Homo sapiens: one gene and its partner. The protein of the gene in region 2 interacts with the protein of the main gene of each other region in a pairwise test. Each region holds a gene or a part of one and is shown on either strand. Other genes may lie near its edges.

The links. The genes of interacting proteins can lie anywhere in the genome.
Region 1: the proteins of PECAM1 (region 2) and JUP interact in binary tests that used the Homo sapiens proteins (3 or more experiments, as listed by UniProt).

The regions. Positions count from the first base shown.
Region 1 is NC_000017.11:41,780,212-41,783,907, forward strand, and holds part of JUP (junction plakoglobin), read right to left. Parts: intron 1-3,696. UniProt on the Homo sapiens protein: Common junctional plaque protein. The membrane-associated plaques are architectural elements in an important strategic position to influence the arrangement and function of both the cytoskeleton and the cells within the tissue.
Region 2 is NC_000017.11:64,359,833-64,363,557, forward strand, and holds part of PECAM1 (platelet endothelial cell adhesion molecule precursor), read right to left. Parts: intron 3,566-3,725; coding exon 3,317-3,565; intron 584-3,316; coding exon 308-583; intron 1-307. UniProt on the Homo sapiens protein: Cell adhesion molecule which is required for leukocyte transendothelial migration (TEM) under most inflammatory conditions.

The sequences.
Region 1 (3,696 bases), about 23 Mb from region 2:
CATAGCAAGACCCTGTCTCTACACAAAACTTTAAAAATTAGCTGGGCATGGTGGTGCACACCTGTGGACCCAGCTACTTGGGAGGCTGGGCGGGAGGATTGCTTGAACCCAGGAATTCAAGGATGCAGTGAGCTGTGATCACGCCACTGCACTCTAGCCTAAGGGACAGAGCGAGTCCCTACCTCAAAAAAAGGAAAGAAGGCCGGGCGCAGTGGCTCACGCCTGTAATCCCAGCACTTTGGGAGGCTGAGGTGGGTGGATCACTTGAGGTCAGGAATTCAAGACCAGCCTGGCCAACATAGTGACACCCCCATCTCTACTAAAAATACAAAAATTAGCTGGGCATGGTGGCGCATGCCTGTAGTCCCAGCTACTTAGGAGGATGAGGCAGGAGAATTGCTTGAACCTAGGAGGCAGAGGTTGCAGTGAGCCAAGACTGCACTACTGCACTCCAGCCTGGGCGACAGAGCAGGACTCCATCTCAAAAAACAAACCAAAAAAAAAAAAGAAAGAAAAGAGAAGAGGAGAAGGGAGGAGGAAAGAAAGCTGAGTGCCAAAAGCGGTGGCTCACGCTTATAATCCCAGCATGTCGGGAGGCCAAGGTGAGTGGATCACCTGAGGTCAGGAGTTCAAGACCAGCCTGACCAATATGGTGAAACCCCGTCTCTACTAAAAATACAAAAATTAGGCCGGGCACAGTGGCTCACGCCTGTAATCCCAGCACTTTGGGAGGCCGAGGCGGGTGGATCATGAGGTCAGGAGATCGAGACCATCCTGGCAAACACAGTGAAACCCCGTCTCTACTAAAAACACAAAAAAATTAGCCAGGCGTGGTGGCGGGCGCCTGTAGTCCCAGCTACTCGGGAGGCTAAGGCAGGAGAATGGTGTGAACCCAGGGGGCGGAGCTTGCAGCGAGCGGAGATCGTGCCACTGCACTCCAGCCTGGGCGACAGAGTGAGTGAGACTCCGTCTCAAAAAAAAAAAAAAAAAAAAATTAGCTGGGCGTACTGGCAGGCGCTTGTAGTCCCAGCTACGCGGGAGGCTGAGACAGGAGAATCACCTGAACCCGGGAGATGGAGGTTGCAGTGAGCCAAGATTGTGCCACTACACTCCAGTCTGGGTGACAGAGTGAGAGACTCCATCTCAAAAAAAAAAAAAGAAAGAAAGAAAGAGAAAAAGAAAGCTGAGCTTCCTGCTCTGCTGGCCCCAAAGGCCAAGATGCCAGGAGGCTGAGCAAAGGAGAGTGGTCCATGAGCTTGCCCTTCAGGCCTGGCAGAGGAAGTCGCTTCACAATAAGATATTCCATGTCCCCAGACTCAACCATGTCCCAGGAGAGGCCGCTCAGTGTCACTTGCAGGAACACAAGCCCTGGTGACCTGCCCAGCCACACTGCTTGCTTTTCCTCTTCACAGGGGTCACAGGACCAGCTCACAGATGCCTTTCCCTCTCACTGCCAGGTCGCTCTTCTCCCAAAAGATACAAATGAGGAGTCTCCCCAAAGGGCAGCAATTCCTGTCTGGCCTCCCTGCCGCACAGGATGGCCCTCATCAGAGAAGAGTCAATGCTGAGTCTCCACCTCTCCCTCTTATTTCTCAACTCAAGATTTCATCTTTAGCAGGCAGAAAGCCCCTCCTCCTGTCTAGACTGCGTCCCTTCAGTAAGTGCATCGGGCCTGCAGCTCTCAAGTCCTCGGGGGAGATGGAAAAACTGCAACCTCATGCCCTCTTTGTAGTAGTCAGTGGGATGGGGTTCATTCTGTTTTCTTCTCTGTCTCAAGTCCCATTAGCCTTCTCCACGATCAATAATCCCGTTGCCTGGGGTCCCCGCCTGCCCTCAGGGAATCCAGAAGCGCGGTAGTGACAGGTTCAGTACTCCGGCTGCACCATCACATAAAGAGAACCCATTTCCCAGACCCCAAATCCAGGCCCATTCTGGTGTCAGATGTCCAGTTGGCAGAGACACCAGAACCAGGCAGGTCTGGAGAACAATCTGACACCAGCTCCTCCCTAGAGGGCCAAGGCTCTGGCTGACAGGCAGCACACATGACCCCCACCTCCATCACCAGAAAAGCCCTCCCAGCAGCTGCCTATCTCAGGTCTCTTGGGCTTCAGAGCAGAGGACAGCCAGTTCCCCATCAAGAGCAGCCTGGCAGCACTGCCTCGTCAACTCCAGCAGGACATTAGCCCAGGCCTAAATCGGACTCTCGTTTCTCGCCAATCCCCACAGGGCAGCACCCCTTTATCTTGGCATAGCCCCAGCCCCCAGCAAAGCAGGCAACTCCCACTTCCTACACATGAACAAGCCCAGAACAGCCATGGTTCTACCTAACCCAAGCTAGGAGGCAGCACAGCTTTGACCCCTGCCTCCTCTTTCCCTCTCAACCTCCCCCCAACACTCACCACAGCCCTGGCCTTGGGGAGAAGCCGCTTCCACCGGAAACTAAAAATCAAGCCACTGGGGAGATTTAAGTGGGCTGGTGGCCAGGACAGGTATCACCCCCACCTACAAAACCTGCCCTACATTCACCACTCACACATGCCTTCATGGGCCCTTCTGAATTCTCTTCTCCCCAGTCAGGCAGAGGCTCTCAAAAGGGGGTGCAGAAAAATCCTTTCCGCTCACACCTGTAATCCCAGCACTTTGGGAGGCTGAGGCGGGCGGATCTCCTGAAGGTCAGGAGTTCGAGACCATCCTGACCAACATGGTGAAACCCCATCTCTACTAAAAATACAAAAATTAGCCTAGTGTGGTGGTGCATGCCTGTAATCCCAGCTACTCGGGAGGCTGAGACAGGAGAATCGCTTGAACCCAGGAGGTAGACGTTACAGTGAGCCGAGATCGCGCCACTGCACTCCAGCCTGGGTGGCAGAGCGTGACTCCATCTCAAAAAAAAAAAAAAAATCCTTTCCAGAGCTGCATGGGGCAATACAGCAGGATGGGTTCTGGGCTTGGAATCAGAGGACCCAAACGTCAGTCTTGGTGCTGCTTGGGTCTCGCTGTACAACATTGGGGAAATTACTTAAGTTCCTTGAGTTTCAATTTCCTCCTCTGTAGAATGCGAATAATGATACGCGTTTTTTTTGTTTTTTTTTTTTTTTTGAGTCAGGGACTCACTCTGTTGCCCAGGCTGGAATACAGTGACACAGCTCACTGCAGCCTTGACTTCCCTGGGCTCAGGTAATCCTCCCACCTCAACATTCCCAGTAGCTGGGACCACAGGCATGCACCACCACGCCCGGCTAATTTTTCTATTTTTTTGTAGAGACAGGGTTTCTCCATGTTGCCCAGGCTGGTCTGGAACTCCTGGGCTCAATCAAGCAGTCCACCCTTCTGGGCCTCCTAACGTGCTGGGATTGCAGGTCTGAGCCATCCAGCCTGGCCAGCCATAAGGATTAAGTAAAAATAGTTAATGAAAGTGCTTGGTTTGGGCCAGGTGAGGTGGCTCACGCCTGTAATCCCAGCACTTTGGGAGGCCGGGGCGGGCGAATCACGAGGTCAGGAGATCAAGACCAGCCTGCGCAACATGGTGAAACCCTGTCTCTACTAAAAATACAAAAATCAGCCGGGGGTGGTGGCACACGCCTGTAATCCTGGCTACTCAGGAGGCTGAGGCAGGAGAATCACTTGAACCCAGGAGGCGGAGGTTGCAGTGAGCCTGGGTGACAGAGCGAGACTCCATCTCAAAAAAAAAAAAAA
Region 2 (3,725 bases):
ACCTCTGCTTCCTGGGTTCAAGCAATTCTCCTGCCTCAGCCTCCCGAGTGGCTGGGATTATAGGCGCACGCCACCATGCCCAGCTAATTTTTGTATTTTTAGTAGAGATGGGGTTTCACCATGTTGGCCAGGCTGGTCTTGAACTCCTGGCCTCAATGATTCACCGGCCTTGGCCTCCTAAAGTGCTGGGATTACAGGCATGAGCCACCGCACCTGGCCCCCTACTTCTCTTATTGTTCCCACAGTCCCTGGGCGTGAAAGAATGCCCCAAGCCCACATGATTTCTTCTCACAGCACAGCAACTTACCTATCACCTTCACCCTCAGAACCTCACTTAACATTTTGGCATGGGAATGGCAATTATCTGCAACACACTGGTATTCGACGTCTTCAGTGGGGTTGTCTTTGAATACCGCAGGATCATTTGAGTTCTTGGTACTATTCTCCAAAACTTTACTTGTTTTTAAAAGTTGGTAAGAAATAGGCAAAGTTCCACTGATCGATTCGCAACGGACTTCGATGGTCTGTCCTTTTATGACCTCAAACTGGGCATCATAAGAAATCCTGGGCTGGGAGAGCATTTCTAGAACAGAGGGAGAAACAATCCAAAAGGCACTGAAGGTAAAAGCAAAGCATCCAGCACAAGAGGTTCCTCCTCCAAAGCCTGAGCTTTGCTTTCTATCCCTGCTGTAATTTCAAATGCCTGCCTGCCTTATTTACCTTTATAGGACACCTATGAGACTGACAGGCTGTGTGTGTGTGTGTGTGTGTGTGTGTGTGTGTGTGGTGAGAAGGGAAAGGGAAAGAGAAGTACAATAAGCAAAACAGAGAATGACAGAAATTCAAGGAAAACATTACATCCCCAGAAATACATGTTCATATTTTACCATATCTCACACGCACATGCACACATAATATACTTTTCTTGTGTTGAGCAAAGACACAGAAAACATAGAAAAAGTACAACAAGTAGCCAACAAAATGTGTGTGTGTGTGTGTGTGTGTGTGTGTGTATTTGAGACAGGGTCTCACTCTATTACCCAGGCTGGAGTGCACTGGTGCGATGACAGCTCACTACAACCTCCCAGAATCAAGCAATCCTCCTACCTCAGCCTCCCGAGTAGCTGGGACTATAGGTGCACACCACACCTGGCTAATTCTTTATTTTTTGTAGAGACAGGGTCTCACTATGTGCTCAGGCTGGTCTTGAACTCCTGGACTCAAGTGATCCTCCCACATCAGCTGCCCAAAGTGCTGGGATTATAAGTATGAGCCACCACACCTGGCTGAGCATATATGTGTGTGTGTGTGTGTGTGTGTGTGTGTGTTCTGAGACCGAGTCTTGCTCTGTCACCCAGGCTGGAGTGCAATGGCGCAATCTCAGCTGACCACAACCTCCACCTCCTGGGTCCAAGGGATTCTCCTGCCTCAGCCTCCCGAGTAGCTGGGATTACAGGCATGTGCCACCACACCCGGCTAACTTTTGTATTTTTAGTAGAGAGGGGGTTTCACCATGTTGGCCAGGCTGGCCTCAAACTCCTGACCTCAGGTGATCCACCCACCTTGGCCTGCCAAATTGTTGGGATTACAGGTGTGAGCCACCAGGTCCAGCCAATATATATGTTTTTAAATTATTCTCAGCCAGTCACGGTGGCTCATGCCTGTAATCCCAGCACTTTGGGAGGCCGAGGTGGGCAGATCACCTGAGGTCAGGACTTTAAGACCAGCCTGACCAATGTAGAGAAACCCCGTCTCTACTGAAAATACAAAATTAGCTGGGCAAGGTGGCACATGCCTGTAATCCTAGCTACTCGGGAGGCTGAGGCAGGAGAATCGCTTGAACCCGGGAGGCAGAGGTTGCAGTGAGCCGAGATCATGTCATTGCACTCCAGCCTGGGTAACAAGAGCAAAACTCCATCTCAAAAAAAAAAAAAAAAAAAAAAGATAAAAAAAGTCTTCTTAGTGCTTCAGCCTCTTAACAGATAAGAATTATATTAGGTCATTATTTAGGCATTAGTTTATTTAAACCTTATACAATGAGATTTCCTCCTCCCAAGAACAAAAAATAAAATAAAACGTTATAACACACATTTGTCTCTTGCATTCCTGCCTTTTGAGTTAGGTGGTTAGAGCATTAAAAATAGGCTAAAATCCTGGTTCAGTTGAAGCTATAATAAAATCTTAGCTGGATAAAACACAGCCACAGGTTAAATGAAAGGATCGTGACTGAATAATATAGTGACAGTGACAACTTGACTGGAGTTCTATAATCAACCAGAATCTCGCCACCCAAAGTGTGGTCCAGAGACCAACAGCATCCACATCACCAAAATGCTAGTTAGAGATGCAGAACCTGGCCCCATCTGGGCCTAAAATACTGAATCATAACCTGTATTTTAACCAGGTCTTGCATGCACATTCAGGCCTGAGAAGCCCAGCTCCTGGTGGTCAAATACCTACATTCTGTCCACTGGAAGTCTTACCCTTTTGGGTTAGCCAGGATACAGATTTAAAAAATGGAATTTTGATATTCTTGGCCGGGTGTGGTGGCTCAGGCCTGTAATCCCAGGACTTTGGGAGGCTGAGGCAGGCAGATCACGAGGTCAGGAGATGGAGACCATCCTGGCTAACACGGTGAAACCCCATCTCTACTAAAAATACAAAAAAATATTATCCGGGCGTGGTTGCGGGTGCCTGTAGTCCCAGCTACTTGGGAGGCTGAGGCAGGAGAATGGCGTGAACCCAGGAGGCGGAGCTTGCAGTGAGCCCAGATTGTGCCACTGCACTCCAGCCTGGGTGACAGAGCGAGACTGCATCTCAAAAAAATAAATAAATAAATAAATAAAAGTAATAAAAATAAAAATACAAAAATTAGGCAGACATGGTGGTGGGCACCTGTAATCCCAGCTACTTGGGAGGCTGAGGCAGGAGATCACTTGAACCTAGGAGGCAGAGGTTGCAGTGAGCTATCGTGCCACTGCACTCTAGCCTGGGCGACACGTCTCAAAAAAAAAAAAAAGAAAAGTTTAACATTGACTAAGTAGTGTTTCCTTCCTGAACTTTTGGGTGGGTACTTGCTCCAGGAGGCAGAATCTTGCCAGAATCTTAGCAAGTCAGAGGCCACATCATCATCAGTGAATCAGTGTTCTGAGCAGGAATACCTCCTTGTTTCTTTGGCCTTTGATTTCGCACTTCTCTCCCTCTAGTTCTTACCCTGCCTGAGTCTGCTCAGACCGGAGAGGGCGGCAGCTGCAGATAAATTTCCTTTCTCCCATTCAACCCTGGATGTCCTCTGAGTCAGCAACAATATACTCACCACATACGACTATCTGGACTGTGTTGCTTTTCTTGACCACTTTGTCAATACCTGCAGTGCAGATATACGTCCCACTGTCCGACTTTGAGGCTATCTTGGTGAAATCTTGAGTCTGTGACACAATCGTATCTTCCTTCTGGATGGTGAAGTTGGCTGGAGGTGCTCCTGGGATGGAGCAGGACAGGTTCAGTCTTTCACCTTGGTCCAGATGTGTGAAGGAAGATTCCAGTTCGGGCTTGGAAAATAGTTCTGAAAAACAGTGAGTGGGAATGGAGCGAGATGTGTCTGGCCACCACCCTAAAGACCCTTCCTGGAGAGGCCCTTGGCTCAGGTGCTCTTGGCAGAACCAACTTCCAACTTCCAGCAAAAAGTTTTCCTTTGCTTCTCATGTACCTAACGATCACCCCAG